Regions from separate parts of the Homo sapiens genome. Here region 1 is linked to region 2. The links come from fine-mapping of genetic effects on gene expression. A gene starts in region 2. The other region holds a variant in brackets. All regions are shown on one strand. Distances are between the middles of the regions. Region 1 overlaps MTMR6 (myotubularin related protein 6). Region 2 holds the start of MTMR6 (myotubularin related protein 6).

Region 1 (11,423 bases), 19 kb after region 2:
ATAGAATATGTAACATGGAATTCTATAAAATACCACACTCTTATCTCCATAAATAATTATGAAATACCTGTTGTTCCTAGGCCGGATGCGGTGGCTCACGCCTGTAATCCCAGCACTTTGGGAGGCCGAGGTGGGTGGATCACGAGGTCAGGAGTTCAAGACCAGCCTGGCCAACATAGTGAAACCCCATCTCTACTAAAAATACAAAAAATTAGCTGGGCATGGCGATGGGTGCCTGTAATCCCAGCTACTTGGGAGGGTGAGGCAGGAGAATTGCTTGAACTTGAGAGGCGGAGGTTGCAGTGAGCCGAGATCGCGCCATTGCACTCCAGCCTGGGTGACAGTGTGAGACTCTGTCTCAAAAAAAAAAAAAAAAAATCCTATTGTTCCTTTTAATTTTTAAAAATCTAAAAAATATGTACACATTAACAGATCAAACGGATTGTTTGGTATATTCCACAGTGTTTTTATACAAATTTTAATTAGGGTACTTATTTTTTTTGCTAGTATAAATGTTGCAATGTACATATACATGTAAACAACATTTTGTGTATTTATATGAGACATATGTATATGTTTCTTTCTGTATATTTGCCAGAGTTTCTCTGGGATATTTGTCTGGGAGTAAAATTATTGGGTCTTGAATAAGTGCATATATAACCTTACTAAGTATGTCACCTCTTCAAAATGGTTGTTCCAATTTATTCTCAGTAGTGTATTACACAATGTTGTACATCCTCAACAACATTGATATTGTCAATTTAAAATTTTTTGCCTATCTAGTAGATGTCCAATTGTAATGTTAATGAGCTGATTATAAAGAATTTACCCTTTTCAGATAAAGAAAAAGGAAAGAGTTTCCTTTTCTTTTTTTATTGGGTTGTTTGTCTTTTATTGATTTTATAAAAGTTCTGGGCTACAAATAGAATTACCATTCAACCCAGCAATCCTTTTACTGGATATATACTCAAAGGAAAATAAATCAACCAAAAAGACACGGGCATTTGCATGTTTGTTGCAGCGCTGTTCACAATAGCAAAGCTATGGAATCAACCTAGGTGCCCATTAGCAGTGGATTGGATAAAGAAAAAGTGGTGCATATTCACCACAGCCATAAAAAGAGAACAAAATCATGGCCTTTACAGCAACATGGATGCAGGTGGAAGCCATTATTCTAAATGAATTAACACAAACAAAAAACCGTATACTGCGTGTTCTCACTTATAAGTGGGAGCTTAACATTGGGTACATACGAGCACAAAGATGGGAACAATAGACATTAATAGACTAATAGAGGTGGGAGGGAGGGAAGTAGAGGAACAAGGGTTGAAAAACTACCTCTTGGGTACTGTGTTCACTGTCTGGGCTATGGGTTCAGTCAAAGCTCAAACCTCAGAATCATTCAGTATATTCATATTACAAACCTGCACATGTACCCACTGAATTAAAAAAAAAAGTATTATTCAAGAAAACAAATAAAGAGTTCTAGGTTATAATGCTTTGTCAGATGTGTGTGTCATAGATAGCTTTTCCCAGTGTGTGGCTTGTCTTCTCTGTTTTTTATTTTATATGTCTTTCAGTTGAAGTTTATATTTTTAATGTTATAGATTTTTCATTTTTTTCTTTTATTGTTTGTGCTCTGTTGTGACTTAAGAAATCCTTTCCTATGTCAAAGTCATAAAGGTTCTTCTATATTTTCTTCTAAAAGCTTAAGTTTGATCCTGTAAGTTGTTAATACATCTGGGAAATATTTTGGTGTATGATGTGACTAGGGATTCATTTTTATGTTTTCGTATAGACGACCGGCGCCATTTATTGACTGTTTCATTCCATTCGTCTTTAGTACCAGCTCTGTCATAAAAACATCTTCCATGTATGTGAGGCTCTGCTTTTGAGTTTTCTTTTCTATTCGTTTGGTATACTGACTACACTGTACCACACTGTTTTATTGACTATAGCTTTTAAATAAATTTTGATATCAAGTAGAGCATACCCTCCCAACTTGTTCTTCAAAATTGCCATGGCTATTTTGGATTCTTTGTTCTTCCTTTTCTGTTTTAGAATTCATTTAGCACACATTTATTGAGCATATACAGTGTGTTTCATATCACTATTCTAGATATTTTGGAAACAATAGCCAATAATAACAGGTACAAATTCTATCCTCATGGAGCCAACATTCTAGTGCTGAAAGATATTGATAACATCACCAATAAGTAGGTAGATAAGTAAAATACATAGTGATAAGTGCTAAGCAGAAAAAGAAGTAGGAAAGGTGGTTAGAATATGGGGCTTGTGTCTCTGTGCCTGAGAGGAAGAGACTTGGGCATGTTTCTGTGCCACTAGCTCTGCCAGCTTTTAGAACCTCCACTTTATAGATGAAGAAGCTGAAGCTCAGGCAAGTGGCAATTCATTCATTGTTACACAGGCAGTGTAGAGTAGTAAAATGAGCTCACGTAGACTGTGTTGTCAGGTAGCTTTGGGTTCAAATGTCAGCTCTGCTGTTCACTGCTTGGGTGACTATGTCAGGGTGCTTTTGGCTGTAAGTAAATGAATACCTGACTGAACATGGTGCCAAACCTTGCAAAGCAGGAGAGGTGGGTAGGCTTTCCTCAGTAGCCCCATTGCTTATCAGGGAGGAGAAGCTCTCTCAGAAGGCCCCCAGCTAACTTTCCCTAACATCTGATTGTTTGAAAATCCGGACACTTGGCTACTCCTACCTGAAAAGGAGGCAGAGAATGTAGATCCTAGTATTTTTTATCTCTTGAGGGAAAAGGATGTTGCAAGTAAGGAAGGGGGGGAGGAATGGCAGACCAACAGTGTCTGCCAAAAAGTATGTAACTTTCGAGCTTAGCACCCACATAAAATGGGTATATAGCATCAGTCATCATGTAGGGCTTTTGTGAGTCTTAGATGAAAGAAAATATGAAAAACATCTGTGCGTAAAACATAGTAGTGGCGTAAATCATAGCTGCTCATACTATTTTTCTAAGCAGTTGAATCAAGATTAGAGGTCAATTATGCCTCCCAGTCCAGAGATTGATGTTGCTCTGTGGTACACCCCTGTACTGCACATACTGTCATACTGTTCTCTTCTCTTTCTCTCTTTGATTGTACTCTTCTGATTTCCCCAAGAAGGCTAACCAATTGATATATGATTCTATATCAGCTGTTAAGGAAACTCACTTGAGATACTGATCTTGGAGAAGTTGTATTCCCTAGAGGCACTGGATCCCTTCTTCATCCAGTGTTTGTCCAAGAATTGCCAGGAATTTTACCTAGCAGTACCTTCTGAAATAATTAGTCATATTATCATCCACTCCATCTACCCCTCCTTTGTCCACTTGCTTCAGTATTTTCTCTATTATCCATCTCGTAGAGATATAAATGAAGGCTTCCCGTATAGCTATTCCCTCAGCTGCTGGGAATGTAGTTTGAGGGGCAACAAAAAGATATCTGTGTTATTCTCTACTCTCCTATTGTTGTCTTTTAAATGCTTTCTTATCAGTATATTCCCTTATGTTTGCCCTAAATGAAGTTTGTTTAATATACTAGAGCCATAGAAATGAACATTTTAGATCCAGAAGGGGCCGTATCAACCTTATATCCTTTTTCTCACTTTACAGTTGATTATGTTTTCAAAATCACATAACTAGTTAGTGGTAGGACCAGGTTTCTTCATCATTTTCTTCCTGCAAATACTTTTGGGTTTTTATAATTAAAATCAGAACAGTGATGTACAGGTTGAATATCCCCAATCCAAAAATTCAGCACTGACATGATGTTCAAAGGAAATGCTCATTGGAGCATTTCAGATTTCAGATTTTCAGATTAGGGATGTCAATTGATAAGTATAATGCAAATATACCAAAATCTTTAAAAATCCAAAATTTGAAATACTTCTAGTCCCAAACATTTTGGATAAAGGGTTCTCAACTTGTAATATTACAGTTAGCTTTTATTCCTTATTCTCTGTTTAAATGTTATTATTAGATCATTTTTAGTAACTTGTCACAGGCGCATTAATATAAGTGATAATGGTGCTAAATCTTAGCCGTAAGGACTATATATGTGTGTGTGTGTGTTAATTATTTGTTCTCTATGTAGTTTTAATTTCCATTGACAACTGCTTCTCTCATTGTTTTTCAAGCTTTTCTTGATTATTTAAATGCATTTAATTTTGCAGGTGAACTTTAGATTTAAGATGTATAATTAATATTAACATATAATGTAATAATTACATAATATATGTGTATTATATAAATAATCATCCCTCACTACAAAACAAAGCAGATTGGAATTTTTAAACTGAAATTTATGTTGAATTTTTAGATTAATTTGGGATAAATGGATCTCTTGCATGATTAGGAGCCTATGATCTTTTATTCTCCAGAAAAGTTTTCTATAAATATTTTAATAGGAGTGTTATTAAGAAAAAGTAGGCATTTTTAGTAGCAAACAAAATATTATTGGTAGTAGGTGAGAACAATAAGCATATGTTTAAAATACCATCAAGTATTGAGTTTATAGTAGGACTTTTTATTCATTCATTTAGTAAACTCTTATTGTGATAAAGGAGGTATCAGGGATGACATCCATATTTCTGGCTTGGGCATTCACATTTAAAAAATTAAAGTTGAAGTGTGTGATATATAACATTTGCAAGCTTTTTGATTTGAGGAGGGCAATTATAATGTTCCAGGTACTGTGTTAGGTGCTGGAGATGTAATGTTGATCAACTCTGCACCATGCCACCCCCAAGGTCCTCAGCCTCCCTCCTGTGCTCATGGGCACCCAAAATTTCAGCCTCAGAAGCAGTTTCCAGAGGGGCCAAGGCAGCTAGGGGCTGGTGTGTCAGTACCGCCCCAAGCACATGCACACCCAGCTAGATCACGACAGTATCTGGGCTTGGCTATTGGGACATGTCCACAACTTTGCTCTACCACAGAACAGGCAGTGGGAGTTGGGAGAGGCCAGGGAGTGGGAGCAGGCACTTCTGAACCTGCAGGGGGAGGGGGTTTCCTAGGCCCCCAAGAGCACAGGGATGCCTGGGTCCAGAGCCATGGCTGGGCGGCTGCAGCTGTGCCCGGGAGTGTGGCTCCTGCCCTGCCAACTCGGTAGGGTATGGGGCTTCCACTGGGATCACCTGTTCCCAGGTCTTGCCTGCTCTGCAGAGCGCGCAACCCTGGCTGCACCTCCCCCACTGCAGCTGGCATCCTCACAGTGGCCTTCACTGTGAAGGAAAAGTATAGCTTGATCTGCAGGAAGAAAAGGGAGGGGGCCTAACTTACTTGGAAAGGGTTGTGGGGCATGTCAGGCTACGCTTTTGGTGTTATTATGAGTTTTGAGCAAAGACCAGAAATGTGTCTAGAAGTTCTTAGATGAAGAGGTAGTGTTAACAGTATTCCAGTTAGTGGGAGCATCTGACCATGTGTAAAGGAGCTCGGTGCATTTGAGGAGCCAAAAGAAGGCTGTTGTCACTAGAACATAGTCAGTGATCGGGAGAGGGACTGGAAATGACTAGATTCCCTTCCTTTTCTTAATCTGCTTTTCAATGTTCACTACTGTGTTGTAGAAAATGGATCAGAGGGTCAGGGGTAGGTATGGAGAGAGCATTTAGGAGGCTGTTTGTTTATAGTAGTTCAGGTGAGAAACAGTGGGGACATTACAACTAGGGATGTGACAGTAGAGATAGAGAGAAGTAGATGGGTTACAGAAACATGTAGGAGATGCAGTTCCCAGGGTCTGATAATGTCTTGAGTATGTGGACTGATGGAGGAGGGATCAGAGTGACACCCATATTTCTGACTTGGGCATTCAGTCATTTTAAAAACGTGAAGTTTGAGTGAGTATGTAACATTTTCAACTTTTTTTGAGGAAGACATTCTTAAACTTATGCATTCTAGAAGAGAATATTTAGTGCTTTCCATGTTGATGACCTGGATGTTTTTTCATGCTGTAGATATTACACCACCATATTGCCTCAGTAGAGAAACTTGCTTTGACTACTTCTGGATGCCCCCTTGTGATACAGTGCAAGAACTTCAGAACTGTGCATTTCATTGTTCCCAGAGAAAGAGATTGCCATGATATTTACAACTCTTTGCTACAACTGTCAAAACAAGGTATTGTTCTTAGAGACCAAAGCTTACATGCTCAATTTGAGATGGGTTATCTAAGATACTTTATTTAATGTTTTATTATTGTTATTTTATCCTTTTTTGCTCTGACAGTCAGGTTCTTTTGTACTCTATCTCCCCCATATTGGCCTGAAAGTAATTAGAAACTATTGATCTGATATAAGAATGGTGTCATCAGAAGGGGTAATGGTAAGGAAAAAGTAAAGCATTTATAGTAGAGACTTACAAAACCACAGGTTTATATTAATCTTTTAAGTCTATTGATGGCAAGTAGCACAATGTATTTTTTAAGTGGGTATTTCACAATCAAAGAGAATGACTTGGAAGTTGATATTACGGAATGATAAAAGGAAGGTCAAGGTCCTTTGGTGGCAGTGGGACTAAAATATTTAATAGATTTGAGTGGGAGATACAGAAGATAAGCAGAGAAACAAGAGAGGGTGAATTCTATTTTAGTAGAAGTAAGGTTGAGAGGGATAGCAGTCCTAAAGAAGAACCTTTTTTTTTTTTTTTTTTTGAGATGGAATCTTACTCTCTCGCCCAGACTGGAGTGCAGTGGCACAATCTCAGCTCACTGCAACCTCCGCCTCCCAGGTTCAAGCAGTTCCCTGCCTCAGCTTCCTGAGTAGCTGGGATTACAGGCAGCCACCACCACACCCGGCTAATTTTTGTATTTTTAG[A/T]AGAGACGGGGTTTCACCATCTTGGCCAGGCTGGTCTTGAACTCCTGACCTTGTGATCCACCCTCCTCGGCCTCCCAAAGTGTTGGGATTGCAGGCATGAGCCACTAAAGAAGAATCTTATCGCTACTTATGCCCTGTGGATCTGGTGACTTCCTTCCCCAAACATGACTTGAATTATATGTCGGACTGGATTTTGGTTGAGCAATCTGGATTGCTGCCTGCAAGAGTGGTCTCAGAGCAGGTCTTTGTTCATTCTTCTCTCTGAGCACATCAGCCTGTAACATCCTATTGTCTCAAATTAAGCCAGAGTTTATAGTAAGGATGATTCTGAAGCACCCCAAGAGTTCTGTGCAACAGTTGCCATTTTTAGTCAACAGTGTCCTATAGGGATGTATAATGCAGTTTCATGTTCTGTATCTGTCTCTAGCTTCTCATTATAACATTAGTCTATTTTACATCTCATTTGGGAAAGTGATTAGTAGGAAATGTCTATTAGTGTCTTTATCATTTTACTTTTAAGAAAAATACTGCAATAGAGGATTTAACATGTAAGTCTAACTATTCTGACTGTATTTATTAGCTTTACTTTTGTTGATGACAAATCCAATCTCAGATTGATATGTGTGCTTTTTAGGTATAATCATTTGCATACTGAACATCAAATGTATTCAGGTATTAGCCATCTCTTTGAAGATTGTAAAGAGAAAAATGAAGGAAGAAAACTGAAAAATTACATTTATTTGTAGTGTATAAGTCTTATAAATTGCACTTAACATTTAAAATTTTGTATTCTGTAGCAAAATATGAAGATCTCTATGCATTTTCTTATAATCCCAAACAAAATGATTCAGAACGACTACAAGGCTGGCAGCTCATTGATCTCGCTGAGGAATATAAGAGGATGGGAGTGCCAAACTCACACTGGCAGTTGTCTGATGCCAACCGGGACTACAAGGTACCTTAACAACATTTTGGAGAAATTCAGAAAGTGTTAGTACCAGAGGGTTAGAGAGTGTCAGCGTAGCAAGTTGTCTGTGTACTGAAATGTGCTGTTCTTGCATTTAATAAGGTTTAAAGGTTTTTAAAGTGGTTTTGAACTAAGAATACAATGGTTATGTTTTGTTTGATATTTACAGATTTGTGAAACTTACCCCAGAGAACTTTATGTTCCCCGGATAGCAAGCAAACCAATAATTGTTGGTAGTTCCAAGTTCCGGAGCAAGGGAAGATTCCCAGTTCTTTCCTACTATCATCAAGATAAGGAGGTAGGATGCTTTTCTTTTGATTTTAGAAATAAAGTATAACTCATCTTCAGGTTTAAGTATCTAAAATAACACTTTTTTTTTTTTTTTGAGATAGGGTCTCGCTCTGTTGCCGAAGCTGGAGTGCAGTGGCACCATCTTGGCTCACTGCAACCTCCACCTCTCGGTTCAAGCAGTTCTTGTGCCTCAGCCTCCCGAGCACCTGGGACTGCAGGCGCGTGCCACCATGCCTGGCTAATTTTAGTAGAGACGAGGTTTTGCCACGTTGACCAGGCTGGTCTTGAACTCCTGACCTCAAGTGATCCACCTGCCTTAACCTCCCAAAATACTGGGATTACAGGTGTGAGCCACTGTGCCTGGATCAAGAACACTATTTTTTACATTAAAAGATTGCTAATGGAGAAGCACTGGCTTTTTGTTTAATTACGTTTTTGCAAATTTAAAACAAAACTACTCAAATACAGAAATTTTCATACTTCTTGTCATCTTTTCTTGACCCTCCCTTCCTTCCAGCAGTGACTTGAAAATAATAGAATTAGTTAACAGATAGGATCCTCTTTCTTTCCTGTGGTTCTCTTTTGATTCTGCTTGTGTTTGGGAAAACCAGATAGTTTTGATAAGACAACCGCTGAGACAAGGGAGAGAACCAAGGGCATTTCAGGGTCCCATTTTAATAGTAAGCTCAAATCAAAAGGATTTTGCAACATGAAACAGTGGAGGAGGCATCTTTATAGTGAGATGCTGTAATAAGGGTTGCTTATATTAGTAAAACTTACCTTTGTAGCCTACTAATAGAAGGCCAAGAGGTACTGTATGTTAAATGGTTTACATGTATGTCTTCCTAACTTTGTAAGGTAGGCTTTACTAATTACCTGTAACTTTCAAGTGGGGAAACTGACATTCAAAGAGGGTAAATTACTTCCTTGTCTCACAGCAAGTAAGTTGAGGAATTCTGTGCCATTTCTGACTCCCAGTCCTTTGGGACCTGATTTTGTTTTCTCTGAGAACTTTTAGAATCCTCTTTTTCCCCAGTGTTCTGAAATTTCTTTTTTTTTTTTTTTTTTTTTTGAGATGGAGTTTCTCTTGTTGCCCAGGCTGGAGTTCAATGGCGTGATCTCGGCTCACAGCAACCTCCACCTCCCGGGTTCAAGCGATTCTCCTGCCCCAGCCTCCTGAGTAGCTGGGACTACAGGCGCCTGCCACCATGCCCAGCCAATTTTTGTATTTCTAGTAGAGACAGGGTTTTACCGTGTTGGCTAGTCTGGTCTTGAACTCCTGACGTCAAGTGATCCACCCGCCTCGGCCTCCCAAAGTGCTAAGATTACAGGTGTGAGCCACTGCGCCCTGCTTGTTCTGAAATTTCACAGTAATGTCCTTTTAAATCTCATCCAGAAACTCAGGTCTCAATTTTGGGAATTTGCTTCTCTATTTCTTTGATAATTTCCTCTGTTCTATTAATTTTCTTTGTCCTTTTTATTTATTAGTTGACAATTGGGCTTTGTAGAATAAACTTCTACTTTTTTAAAAACTTTCTCCTTTATTTTTCATTTTTTTTTTTGGATTTTCTGGAAGATTTCCTCAACCTCATCTCCAGTCTGTGTCTTAGATCCTTTTTTTGCTGTGGTGTTTTTAATATCTGAGAGCTTTTCCTATTTTCTGAAATTTTTAAAGATGGTTTTCTATTCCTGGATGTGATGTTTTAGTTCTTTGAGGATGTTAAAGATTTAAAAAAATAATTCTCATGCTTCCCACATTAGTTATTGTTTTGCTCAGAGTTCCATTTTTTTCTATTTATTTAGTGTTTTTGTCTTTCATGTCTTTCAAATACCTGTTTCTTGGCTGAGTTCTCATATTCAAGCTGTTTTGAAGTTTGTGTGCAGGAATGGTTTGTATCTTGGGATTCTTTCTTTGTTTTCTTTTTTCTTTTTTCTTCTTTGAGACAAGGTCTCGCTTTGTTTCCCAGGCTGGAGTGCAGTGGCACAATCTCGGCTCACTGCAACCTCCGCCTCCTGGGTTCCAGTGATTCTCCTGCCTCAGACTCCCAAGTAGCTGGGATTACAGGCATGTGCCACCATGCCTGGCTAATTTTTATATTTTTAGTAGAGATTGGGTTTCACCATTTGGCCAGGATGGTTTCGAACTCCTGACCTCAGGTGATCCACCGGCCTCGGCCTCCCAAAGTGCTGGGATTGCAGGTGTGAGCCACCGTGCCTGGCTTTGGGATTCTTTCTGTTGTATAAGTTGGTTTCCTTAAAGAACAAACCTCTAATTTTGGTCCCAATGTGTATAGTAAGTCTGGCCATGATCCAAGGGTGAGAAGAGTGATGTCAGGATTTCACATTTTGTTATGTAGACTTTACTTAATGCTCCTAGTCTTTGTGAGTATAGGGCTTCACCCCTGCCCACAGCTGTGTCTATTGTCTATAGAGTCTTCAGGTTCATCCTTATCATGGAATAAACTTTGTCTTCAAGGTAAGGGAGAATCTGGTGGTCTTAGCTAGTTCTCGTACAGGCATTCAAGCAGTTCTCCTTTTTTTCAGTTATATACCTGCTCAAGCCTTCAGAGGTTTTGAGCCTTTTGAGATTTTGCTGCACAAAATACCTTGCTTCTTACTGACTTAAGGGAGTTAGCAGCTTTCTTTGTCCTGTAAAATTGGTTATCACTTGCTAGTCAGCTGTCATCTCCCCAAATTTTATTGACATCTCTATGTCTTTTTTCCCATTCTCTTTGTCCCTGTGGTTTTATGCATTTTAACTTTCTTTATTCGAACCTGACTTGGATTTTGGGAAGGAGCAGAGGCAAAGGGGTAAGGGTTTAGACAGAAGTTTCTAATCTGCTTTTCACAACTAAATCACAGAGAGGTTAAATGGTTATGGCCTCTCTTGACACAGCCATATGTGTAAACATTGTTTATTGGAAAGTTGGGCTGAAAATAGTTATTCTGTGAACAACTTAACAAATCAGAAAGTAGGTCTGAAAAGAATTTAATAAGGCAATGTTCATTTTCTACTGTTTTATCATATTTTCGTGGTTTTATTTTGTGAGTTTAAAATATGCAATTGTGTGAATTTGCATGTATTTTTGTTTTCCATTGGAGAAAAAGTATATGGATCTAAATCTTTTAAATCTTTTTTTAGGACTTTAAACAATAGTAGGCTGGGCATGATGGCTTATGCCTGTAATCCCAGCATGCTGGGAGGTGAGGTGGGCAGATCGCTTGAGCCCAGGAGTTGACAACCAGCCTGGGCAACATGGCAAAAACCCATCTTAACAAAAAATACAAAAATTAGTCAGGCGTGGTGGTGTGTTCCTGTAGTCCCAGCTACCCTGGAGGCTGAGT
Region 2 (11,423 bases):
GGCAACAGAGTGAGACTCTGTCTCAAAAAAAAAAAAAATCTGATTCCTCATTATTTCAAACCGTAATAGTAGTTTCTTTCATGCTTTTTGTGAATTTTAACTTTCAATTTTTTGTGCAAAAAAACTCCGTCTTTAATTGCAAAGTCAATTAAGAAAATGATATTTTCTTAAAATCATCAAATATTAGTCATGTCACTATTTTAAGTTGTTTTTGTAGGCACATGTAAGAAAAAACCTGATGTCTCCTAGAAGTTGGATGATAAAGGAAATTATAAATATATACATTAAAACAAAATTAATTAAGTTACAGATATGTCTCCTTAAAAAGACAGCATAGCTTCTATACCACATCTTGATATGAACCTAGCAGATGAAATGGCATATCTAAAGGCAGAATAGGGCCCTTAGAGGGAGGATTGTTCAATAATGAGGCCTAGTTTAGGGAAATCTAATATTTCCCTCAAATAATGAATCTTCAGGGCTGCCTCCAGAGGCTTGCCTGGCCCAGAGCCCCTCCTGCCTTTTCTTGTGGTTGGTACATCCTGATAGGCTGGCTGATGCATCAAGATCTTTGCTGAATGGCAACAGCCTCTCCTATCATGCAGCTAGTTTCCCCTGCTCTGAATTCATGCTAACTAAGCAATCTTCTCAACTGTAATGTGACCTCCCCCCACGCTTTATAGGAAGAGAACATGCTGACTTTCATTCCCATCTGCTTTCTTGTGGTCAATGATTACACTGGTATTTTGATATTCACCAGTCTAACTAACCCTAAAAACAAGTCTCTTCCTGATTATCTTCCTTCAGATTAGTTTGTAAGTTGCAGTGGACTACTCAATTGAATTGTAACAGTATTAAGTGTGCTCTTGGCATAATTGATGAGATCAGGCAGCAGAAAATGCTTAATCTGATGAATTTTATTGTATGTCAACATTTTTAAAGGGAAGGATAGGAATGTAGGAACACAGGTGCATATTGAATCCTCTGAAACTGGATCGTGTGCTTTATAAATATTACTAACAATAAAACAAATATTAGTGAATGAACCTCTTCTCTTTCCAATGTCTCTTCATTTCCCACCCCTTGTATTGAGGGGAAATGGGTCTCTTTGTTCCTTGCAGTAATCACCAAGGGGAGAGCTGGCAACAGAGAGGCAGATGGCCTGGATCATCTGGATCCTATATATGGTACCTGACTGGGGCTTCTACTCAGCTACTGCTGCTAACAGGACATCTGTTCCCAGAGCTCCCTGTGCCTTTCACATGCACAGGGTCTTCAAATAATGATGTAGGGACCCCCAACAAAAGTACCAAGCCCCTACCCCATCATTCAATAATGAAGCTTAACAATAGGCAAATTCTCCTATAAAGAGTAAGTTTCCAATCAGCATTTTATTGCTGGAAAGGACCATTAAAGATGATTAGATATTGGAGGATCGCTTCTGACATCAAAGTCAGAGACCAAAACAGCAAACGTAGAGAGAACCTAAAAGGAATAGGGTTCAGGAAGCAAAAATTACAAGAAATACATAAATAAATGAAAACTATTATTCACCTAGGAGAGATGAGCTCTTACATGTATCAGAGCAGGAGGCTAGAAAACAAATAAATGAACAAACTGAAAAACAAAGAAAAATAGGAAAATGTATGTAACCAAAAAGATCTCTTCACTTAGAAACAATAACATTCTAGTAGACAAACCTTGTGCTCAGATTTTGGATTCTTTTTTTTTCCAGTTAGGTCATCTTGGGTTCAGAACAGATCTTGGATTCTAATAACATTTTCCAATAAAAGGAACCAGGGCTCCTTGGGGAAATGGATGATTCTAGGGCTGGGGTGGGAAAGATGCAAGATGAGCCTGGAGCATCTTGTGGTATAGCATACCTGTATTCCCAGCTACTCAGAAGGCTGAGACAGGAAGGTTGCTTGAGCCCAGGAGTTTGAGGCTGTAGTGCACTATGATCACACCTATGAACAGCCACTGCACTCCAGCCTGGGCAATATAGCGAGACCTCATCTCTAAAAAATAAATAAATAAATAAAAATAAAGTCTATTTAAAGTGAAAACACTTAGAAATTAAAAATATAAGCCAGGCACAGTGGCTCATGCCTGTAATCCCAGCACTTTGGGAGGCAAACCTTGTGCTCAGTAGACAAAAAAGGAAGAAAAAGAAGAATCCAAGATCTGAGCACAAGGTTTGTCTACAATTATATATGTATGTGCATGTATATGTGTGTATATATATATACATACACATACATACACACATGTACATATATATAATTGCAGCAATTAAAAATATTAGAAATAATGGAGTATTCTAAAAATATTAGAAACAATGAAGTATTAAGAATTTCCTAGAGAGTAGATTAGAAAGGTAAATTCTTAAAAAATAGGAGTGAAAGAATAGTAAAATTAGGAAGTCAGACCAGGAATTTCTACTGAAAAAAGAAAGGGGCTGGGCACAGTGGCTCACATCTGTAATTCCAGCACTTTGGGAGGCTGAGGCAGGCAGATCACTTGAGCCCGAGAGTTTGAGACCAGCATGGGCAACATGGAAAAAACCCGTCTCTACAAAAAATACAAAAATTAGTCAGGCTTGGTGGTGCACGCCTGTAGTCCCAGTTACTCAGGAGGTTGAGGTGGGAAGATTGCTTGAACCTGAGGGGTTGAGGCTGTAGTGAGCTGAGATTGTGCCACTGCACTCCAACCTCAGTGACACAGTGAGACCCTGTCTCAAAAATAAATAAATAAAAATAAAACAAAATAAAAAGAAAGGAGAAAGGACAGGAGGGAAATAGGAAAGAAGAAAGATGAGGGAGAGAAGAGAGGTGAGAAGAATAAAAAAAATTTTTAAAGGGAAAAAAGAAAAAGGAAGAAGGAAAAAGAACGAAACAGTAATTATTACAGAAATAATACAAGAAAATGTCCCAGAATTGAAGGACTTATGTTTTCAGATTACAGAGCTCAAAACACTGGGCAGAAAAATAAACAAGAAAGCTAAGTTTTATTATGTTGAAATTTTAGACCATTGGAGATAAAGAGATCCAAAAAGCATCCTGAGAAAGTAGAAGCGACACCTAAAGGGAAATCGGAATGCCAGCGGATTTCTGAACAACTGCATTGAAAGTCAGGATATGTCTCTGGGAGCTTTCAAAATCCTAATTAAAATTACAGAATTCTAGACCTAGCCAAACTTCCCGTCAAGGATTTATGCTCCATTCACCCTTTCTCAGGAAGTTAATACAGAATATACTACATCAGAATAAAACAATGCAAGTAAGTAAATCAAGAAAGATAAACCACAGGATCTAAAAATTCAGCACAAGTAACCAACACATTTCTCAGGCCCATGGTGAGGAGAGTCCCAGGATAATATCCATTCAGTAGGCTCAGAGAACACAAGTGCAAACTGGAGCAAAAGGAGAAAAGGCTCCTAGAAGCATCTGGAGACCTCTAAAGAGATGTCTCGAGGAAAGATAATGGAACTGAGTGATTGCCAGATTTAACCATAAGGAATATTCTATCTAGTGCAAGAGTATTCAACTCAAGAGTCAAAGAAACGTCATTTAATATTTTATCTGTTATTTTACTTTCTTTCTGTAAAGCTAGGTAATTTTCTAGCCTATCATATTAACATAAATAGAACTTTAATATGGATTTTGAGAAGCAAATCAATGTAAAACAGTTGTTAAGAATACAGACTCTGAAGTCAGCCTGTCTGGCTTTATAACATGGATCTTGGCTTTATCTGCTATGTGATATTGGGCAAGTTACTTCACTTCATTGTGTCTCGCTTGTCTCATCTCTAAAATAAAGAAAGCAATAGCATTTTCCTCAGAATACCCGTAAAGCACTCAGTACATTTGGTCACCTGACATCATTATGATTGCCTCTCTGTGAGAATTGGTAAAGAGAGGACACAGGAAGTGAGGAGATGAGAAGAGGGAGGATAATCTGTAGGGGAATGGGGAAGGAGGAAGTTGTAAATTGGGAGGAAAATGATATAAAAAGTTTTGTTAAGAAAGTCTTGCTGTATGCTATACAATTCACCTCTTTCTGTTTTCTCAAAAAGCAATCCTCAGTAAAGACCTACATTACTTTTCTCTCTCTCTATATATATATATATGTGTATATATATATATATGTATATATATATATATATATATGTGTATATATATATATATATATATTTTTTTTTTTTTCTGAGCAGGATTTGTGGGGTTTTTTTTCGGGGGGAGGGGGTGGATGTGATACTGTACTAAGGTTGGTTTCTAGGTGGTTTAATGTAACTCTTATTACATATTTAGCTTAGAGGAGTCAGCAACTCCACCGCAAAGGCTGTTGTGTTTAATAACCATCTCCATTGCTTTGGCAATCTGTCTGAAACATCGTAGGCACTCAAAACAAAACAAACCAAGACAACTTGAACAAAATGAAACAAATAAGTGAAACAAAATTTTTAATTATAAAAGAAAATTTAGATGTTAGGCTTTTCTAACACCAATCACAGTATGAAAGATGAAGATTACAAACCTTAACCGGCTTAGTACAGAATACTTACAAAACGTAGAGCAGAGTTTCTCGGACTCTAACTCCTGACCTCAAGTGATCCGCCCGCCTCAGCCTCCCAAAGTTCTGGGATTACAGGCGTGAACCACCGCGCCTGGCATAGAGCAGGGTTTCTCAACCTCTGCACTGTTGTCATCTGCCGGATAATTCCCTGTAGTTGGGGGGTTGGTCTGGTGCCTAGTAGGGTGTTCAGCAGCCGACTTGTGACTTGGCCTCCACCCACCAGTTGCCCCCCGCCGCCACCCCCCCACCACCACCATTTGAGACAACCAAAAATATCTCCAGATGTTACCAAATGTCCCCCGGGGAGAAAACTCACTCCAGGCTGAGAAGTACCACATTAGACGTGTTCTAACAAAAATTACCTGTAACCCTCACCTAGAAATGTAAACTTTTTGTTTACATAAATAAAAATTACAGAGCACGGCTACATTGAACTTATTGTTCCATAGTCAGTTTTTTCTTCACTCAGTAATGCAGCATTAACATTTTCGTTATGTGATATCCCTCTACAGGATGAGTTTTAATGGATGCTGGTGCTAACATCGTATGAAATTGAGGTAGGAGGCGGGACTCTGACACCAGACCAGATTGAGGACTAGCTAATCATCATACTTTACATAAGGAATCCGTAGGATTGGAGAGTTGATTGTTTCAAATAAGGCTGGTTTCCTTATTTGGTTATTTCCTTAGAATAATAACTCCAAATCTGATTATTTCCTTAGAATACATTCTTATGAGTAGAACTGCAGCTCAAACTAAATTTGGTGCTGTCCAGTGGTATGGCGATGGACTTCAGAACATCCTCCACTCTTGCCCTCACCCCACAAGAACCCTTTACTCGGGATCCATTCTCACGCAGTCTTCCTCCCCGACCGCCCCGCGCGTCCGCTCGGCGGGATGACAAAGACCGCCTCGGGTGGGGTGGTGAGCAGTACCGGCCTCCTCCAGCAGGGGGCGCTGTGGGATCCGCCGCTGTCCGGGACGAACCAGCAAGCCGCTCTCGGTCCACACACGCTCTGTCTGCCTGCCCCGAGTCCCCCGGGAGGCCGCGGGGTTTGGGGAAGTGTTTCTAGGAGACGGCGCTCACCGGCTGCACCTGCGCCGTTGACGCCACCGGGGCCGGCAGACAGACCCGCGGCGCTGGCTGGTGGAGGGAGTTCCCGCTTGCTCTCTGTCGCTGTCACCGCCCTGTTTCTGTAGCCGTATGGTACGCCTGTGAGACCGGCTGCCGGCTGACGTCTCCTTGCGATGGAGCATATCCGGACGACCAAGGTAGTCGGGCGCGGGATCGCCAGTCTTCAGGGGCCCTGCTCTGACCCGGCTGAGGCAGGAGGAGACGAAGGCTCTGCTGGCCTGACTGGGGCTGGGAGCCGGCCCGGCGGAGACCCGGCCCGGGGCGGGAGGGTCTGGCCAGGCCTGGTCTGGGAGGGCAGGGTTAGCTTGGGCCAAGCGGGGTGCAGAGGCCTCCTGTACCTACAGGAGCAGGGGTCCCACTTTCAGCATCTTGGAGTGCGTAGAGATAAGTCTGGGAAAACTGGTCACCGCCCTCCTAGCTCTACGTTTTCTCGGGCAAAATTGGGGCTCCTTTAACTTTGGAGTCTTTCAGCCTTTCGTTGCCTCATCAACCGGAAAACCGTCTTCAAATTAACATTATGATGCTGTGTAAGCTTGTCCTTGCTCACATTTCATTGTCCCGTGTCACAGATTCACAGTACGAGTTTTGGAGGAACCGAGATCAGCACTCCGCTCCACCTCCCTTTGCTGTCTCGGTCTCCAGTCTTTCGCATCCGGTGTTTCCGTGTCTGTGCTTCATACTTCAGGCATTGTCCTGTGTCAGTAGTCAAGAGTTCTGGAGAAGGGAAAAATGTTATTCCATATTTTAAAAGGTCGGATGCAGCTTTATTCGATTGACCTTATTGCACTCCATGCTTAATTTTTGTGTGTGGAAGACCTTCATTTTGAGAACGAACAAATATTTTTATTTCGTTACAAATTTAAAAACGGAAGGAAATGACATCAGAATGTTACCAAATTACGTTTCCAACGACATTTAAGTTTAACTTTGAGAGGGAGAAAAACATAAATCGAGACGAGAAGAATAACATTTTAAAATCACTGCGAGCCCACTGCAAGGCAGCCTCTTGACGTTTTGGCAAAGCTGAAGCCCTTTAGTTGCTGCCCATCTTAAAATTACGGCTCATTTAGGGAACCACAGATGTTCGTTATCTTCATTGTTCCAAGAAGAATTTGTGTTTTTAAAAATTTTTTAAATGTTTCACAAACCTTTTAAAGGTATACATAAATTTTTATTGGAGCTTGTCTTTAACATTGTGCATACCGTATCTAGTAAAATTGAAGATTCTGAAAACTAACCCCTTAACATTTTTTTTTAAGAGAAGAAAGATAAAATAACTTGAGAATTCAAGTTGTGGGTACTTAAATTTTGAAAATGGAAGGGTGCTTAAGTCTATAACCAAACTCGTAGAAGGTGCACAGAGGAAAAGAGGACTAGAGTGGACATTGGATCAGGTTCTTGTATTGGTTCCAGATATGTATTATGTAGTAGCTAAGTGCACGTGACTTCCTTCTGCATCAGTTCGAAGCTCCTCTATTTTTCATATGCTTTCTACGGTGCATAGCACACAATCGAAAACCGGTAAAAGGCTGGGCACGGTGGCTCACGCCTGTAATCCCAGCACTGTGGGAGGCCGAGGTGGGCGGATCACTTGAGGTAAGGAGTTCGAGACCAGCCTGGACAACCTGGCAAAACCCCATATCTACTAAAAATACAAAAATTAGCCGGGCATGGTGGCAGGCGCCTGTAATCCCAGCTACTCAGAGGCTGAGGCAGGAGAATTGCTTCAACCGGGGAAGTGGAGATTGCAGTGAGCCAAGATGGCACCAGTGCACTCCAGCCTGGGCAATAGAGCGGGACTCAGTCTCAAAAAAAAAAAAGAAAGCCGGGTGGGGTGGTATGTACCTGTAGTCCCAGCTACTCGGGAGGCTGAGATGGGAGGATGGCTTGAGCCCACGAAGTGGAGGTTGCAGTGAGCCAAGATTGCGCCATTGCCCTCCAGCCTGGGTGACATAATTGGGGGGGGGGGGGCGGAAAAGAATAAAAAATCAGTAAAAGTAAACTGAATCTGATCAACTAGAGCAAATCCTATTCTTAGGTGGATGATAAGAGTGAACAGACTTGGAAAATATTTAGGATCCCTTGGTTATTTTAAATCTTTCCTCATTCAATTTATTATGAATATATATCTTTGTTTTTATTTGTAGAGTTGTAGCCCCTCTTATTAGCTCTTTGAAAGTTGTCACTGGTGACTTTCATTTTGTCTGATATTCCTCCTTATCTACCAACTGATGAACTTTTCTTCAAGTAATGCTCTGATTTTGACTTATCTTTACACAGTGGTCTCATGCTAGTGGTTTAATAAGGCCTTTTTAGAGACTAAGAAATTTCTGATGAATTGTCTATTAAAACTACTTTTCAAATATGCTCCTTTATTACTTTGGGTTGTTTTTCTAGTATTGGATCACTACTCTGGAGTAATATTAAGTGAGTGTATGTAGACCGCAAATAAATATTTTCTAGGTACCTAGTATGTGCCAGACACTGTATTGACACTGGGTATATAACAGCAAGATAGAGGTGGACCTCAGGGTACATTCTGTTAATTGTTGTGGGGACTGTAACATGTTCTTAAATTATTAATGTATTGGGAAATAACTTACTTTTAAAAGATTGGTTTGAACATAGCCAAACTTTTGTTTCCATTATGCATAGCCTTCACCTGGATTTAGTTAGTTTGCTGCAAAAATAAGTGTAAGTATTTAAAAAGCAAAAGTGGATTGTTTTAGATTTATTAGCTGTTTTGACCTCTATGTAGTTTAGTCATTAGGATCAAAATTGACCGTAGAGTGTCCTTTATGACTATTTAGTGATTTTTGTTGTTCAGTCAGCTCTATTTGAAAAGTAATAATTACCATTTATTGAGCAACTATATGTCAATATAGCCAATTATACAATATTATTACTTTATAATATGTACAATTGTATAAATCTGTTAATTTATACATTATCATCACTGATCTCTTAAATAACCCTGTCAGTTGGGTAGTATTATCTCCATTTATAGGTGAGGAGGAAATAGGCTTAGAGAATTTAAGTAACCTGCTCAATTAGTTCACAAGAGATAGAATTAGTATTTAAACTAAGGTGTGTTTAACTCCAAAGACTATGTATGCTCTTTCCAGTGCCTCTCTAGTTTTAATCTAATTGTTAAATGTGCATTAGTATTAATTCAGAAATAAATGCTGATGATAATTCTAAGAGCTTCCCCCCCAAACCTCTTTTTGTCATAAATAAATAATATTTATGCGGTATTGTTTTTAAATAATATTTAGGATCATTATTGCTTGCTAACCAGAGATTTATCAGATTAAGTATTTTAGCTGAATACTAATGAACATATTTATCATTCTGTTTTGGTCACATTTGGTTTACTAACTGTATAGCATCAAAGATGCCAAGTCCCTGAATCTGGATTTCTGAAAGAGCATTTCCAAGCTACACTTATGAATCATGCAGCTACTACCTATCGCTTTGAGCTCTCATTTTGCCATAATGACATAGTCCTGCCAAGAAACAATGAGAAATATGCAGAGACAGTTCTTTATGCAGTCTTTCTCCTTTCCCTGCCAGTACTTTGGCTGACATTATATATTGATGTCAAATGATATTGTCTTACCTGTGAATGGAACTTTACTGAATGGAATGGAAGAACCTTTTTTAAGCTATAAATGAAAGGCTGATTGCTAGCGTTTGTAATCAAATGGAATGTCCCATAAAAATCTGATCCTACTAAGGCCCAAATTGAGTTATTCCAAAAGTTATGCCTAACATGTTCTTTAGCTTGCTCCCTCTTTTTGTCATTAGAATGTGAGATCATCTATGTATGTATACAAATATACCTTCCCTCTGAAAGAAGAAAGGAGATATAAAAATAAGAATGGATCAAGAATAAGGAGAAACTGATATTATTTAAATTGTCTTTGAAATAAAAGCCAATAGGTTTTGAGGAGCACCTGAATGCTTTTTTCCAAGTAAAGTGTTGTTTTGATTTTCACTAATACTATCCCATTTTACAGGTGAGGAAACTGAAACCCTGAGAGAATTAATAAAATAACTTGTCCTGGCTCACACAGTTAGTTCTACCAAAGAAGAGGTGGAGGTGGGAACTTGAATGTAGGTCTTTCTGATAGCAAGCCTATTCTCTTAACCACACTCTCTTGCCTCACAGAATAATAATCTAATCAAGAGATTTGATTAGTCAGTTGGGGCAGTGTGAGTAAGAACAGAGAGGAGGGGTGGATAGAAGAAGCTTAGGTGGTCAGATTTTTTTCTAGTAGCTAGCTGAATGTGAGGATCTAGTGTGAGGGAAAAGGTCTGGCCTTGAGTAGATTTGGGAGGGAGTTGTTTGTGTTTAGGTAAATCATTGAAATTTCTATTGTGAATGAGTTTATGCAAGGAGAATATGTTGAGACTCTGTGGAGAAAAGTCTAAACACTTAAAAAGGGACAAGCAGGCCGGGCATGGTGGTTCACACCTGTAATCCTAGCACTTTGGGAGGTCGAGGCAGTAGGATCACTTGAGGTCAGGAGTTTGAAACCAGCCTGGCCAACATGGTGAAACCCTGTCTTACTAAAAATACAAAAAATTAGCTGGGCATGGTGGCGGGCACCTGTAATCCCAGCTACTTGGGTGGCTGAGGCATGATAATCACTTGAACCCAGAAGATGGAGATTGCAGTGAGCCGAGATCGTGCCACGGCATCCAGCCTGGGTCACAGAGCAGCACTCTGTCTCAAAAAAAAAAAAAGAAAAAAGAAAAAAGAAAAAAGAAGAGGGCGAGCAAGCAGAGGAGGAGAAGCCGGATGCATTTGGAAGAGGTGAAGCACAGATGGGAAGGTGACAGTCTTCCGTGTTCTAATTTCCTTCTCTGCTCCATCCTCTGGCTGCTTCCTCCTCCTTGGGCCAGGCACTGTTCTAGGTTCAGACAAAAACTCCTGCCCTTATAACTTATCTAGTTGGAGAAGAGGTAACAATAAACAAAATTAAGTTCAATGTATTGTATGTTAGATGGTGGTAAATGCTGTGGATAAAAATAAAGCAAGCCAGGGCTCTGAAGAGTATGAGGGTTGAGGAGGGGGTTTAAGGGAGGACTGCTATAAATTGAGTGGTTAGGGAAGCTCTTACAGAGAAGGTGACTCTTGAGTATAAACCTGAAACTGGTGAGGGAGTAAGCCATCCCCACATGGGGGATGGCGGGGAGAGTCCCAACAAAGGGAACAACAGGGGCAAAAACCCTTTGAGGGCATGCCTGGTTGCTAAGAACAAGCAAGACAGCTAGAGCAGGGTGAGTGAAGAAGAGCACAGTAGAAGATTAAAGTTGGGGGACAGGGGCAAGTTACTGTAGTCTTGAAGGCCACTGTAAAATCTTTGCTTTTTTTGAGTGAGATAGGAAGCCATTGATGGAATAAGCAAAGTAAGAAAAAACTGAAAAGTGCCCACTGGATTTACGATCTGAGGTTACTCTCTCCCCTCTTGAGGTCCATGACTGTTTCATTTGATAATTTATGCAGCCAGACACTGTTCTAGAAATTGGGATACATGAACAGAAACCATAATCTCTGCCCTCCACTTCCTGCACACAACTTGATGTGCTTTCTTTTTGAAAGCTAATTCTTGGCAGGATGTCAGTGTGAAATGATTCTGAGAGTCCTAGATGAGTGCCTGGCTATAGGGAAGGAGTGCGACAAGCCAGAGGAACAGTGATGGTGCAC

The links. PIP is the estimated chance that this variant, and not a neighbour inherited with it, causes the effect.
Region 1: its variant is the best candidate, but not a certain one, in a credible set for the expression of MTMR6 in thyroid (GTEx, PIP 0.80).

Annotation. Positions count from the first base shown.
Region 1 is chr13:25,262,481-25,273,903 of GRCh38, reverse strand. MTMR6 (myotubularin related protein 6) reads left to right here. Exons shown (of 14, transcript NM_004685.5): 3 at 5,963-6,125; 4 at 7,618-7,775; 5 at 7,957-8,085. Among named protein-coding and RNA genes, the nearest start is that of MTMR6, 19 kb to the left of the region's middle. The variant A/T (reference allele first, on the strand shown) is at 6,821.
Region 2 is chr13:25,281,648-25,293,070 of GRCh38, reverse strand. MTMR6 (myotubularin related protein 6) reads left to right here and starts at 5,583. Exons shown (of 14, transcript NM_004685.5): 1 at 5,583-5,847. The coding sequence starts at 5,824. RefSeq lists enhancers at 5,270-5,439, 5,540-5,879, 5,583-6,203.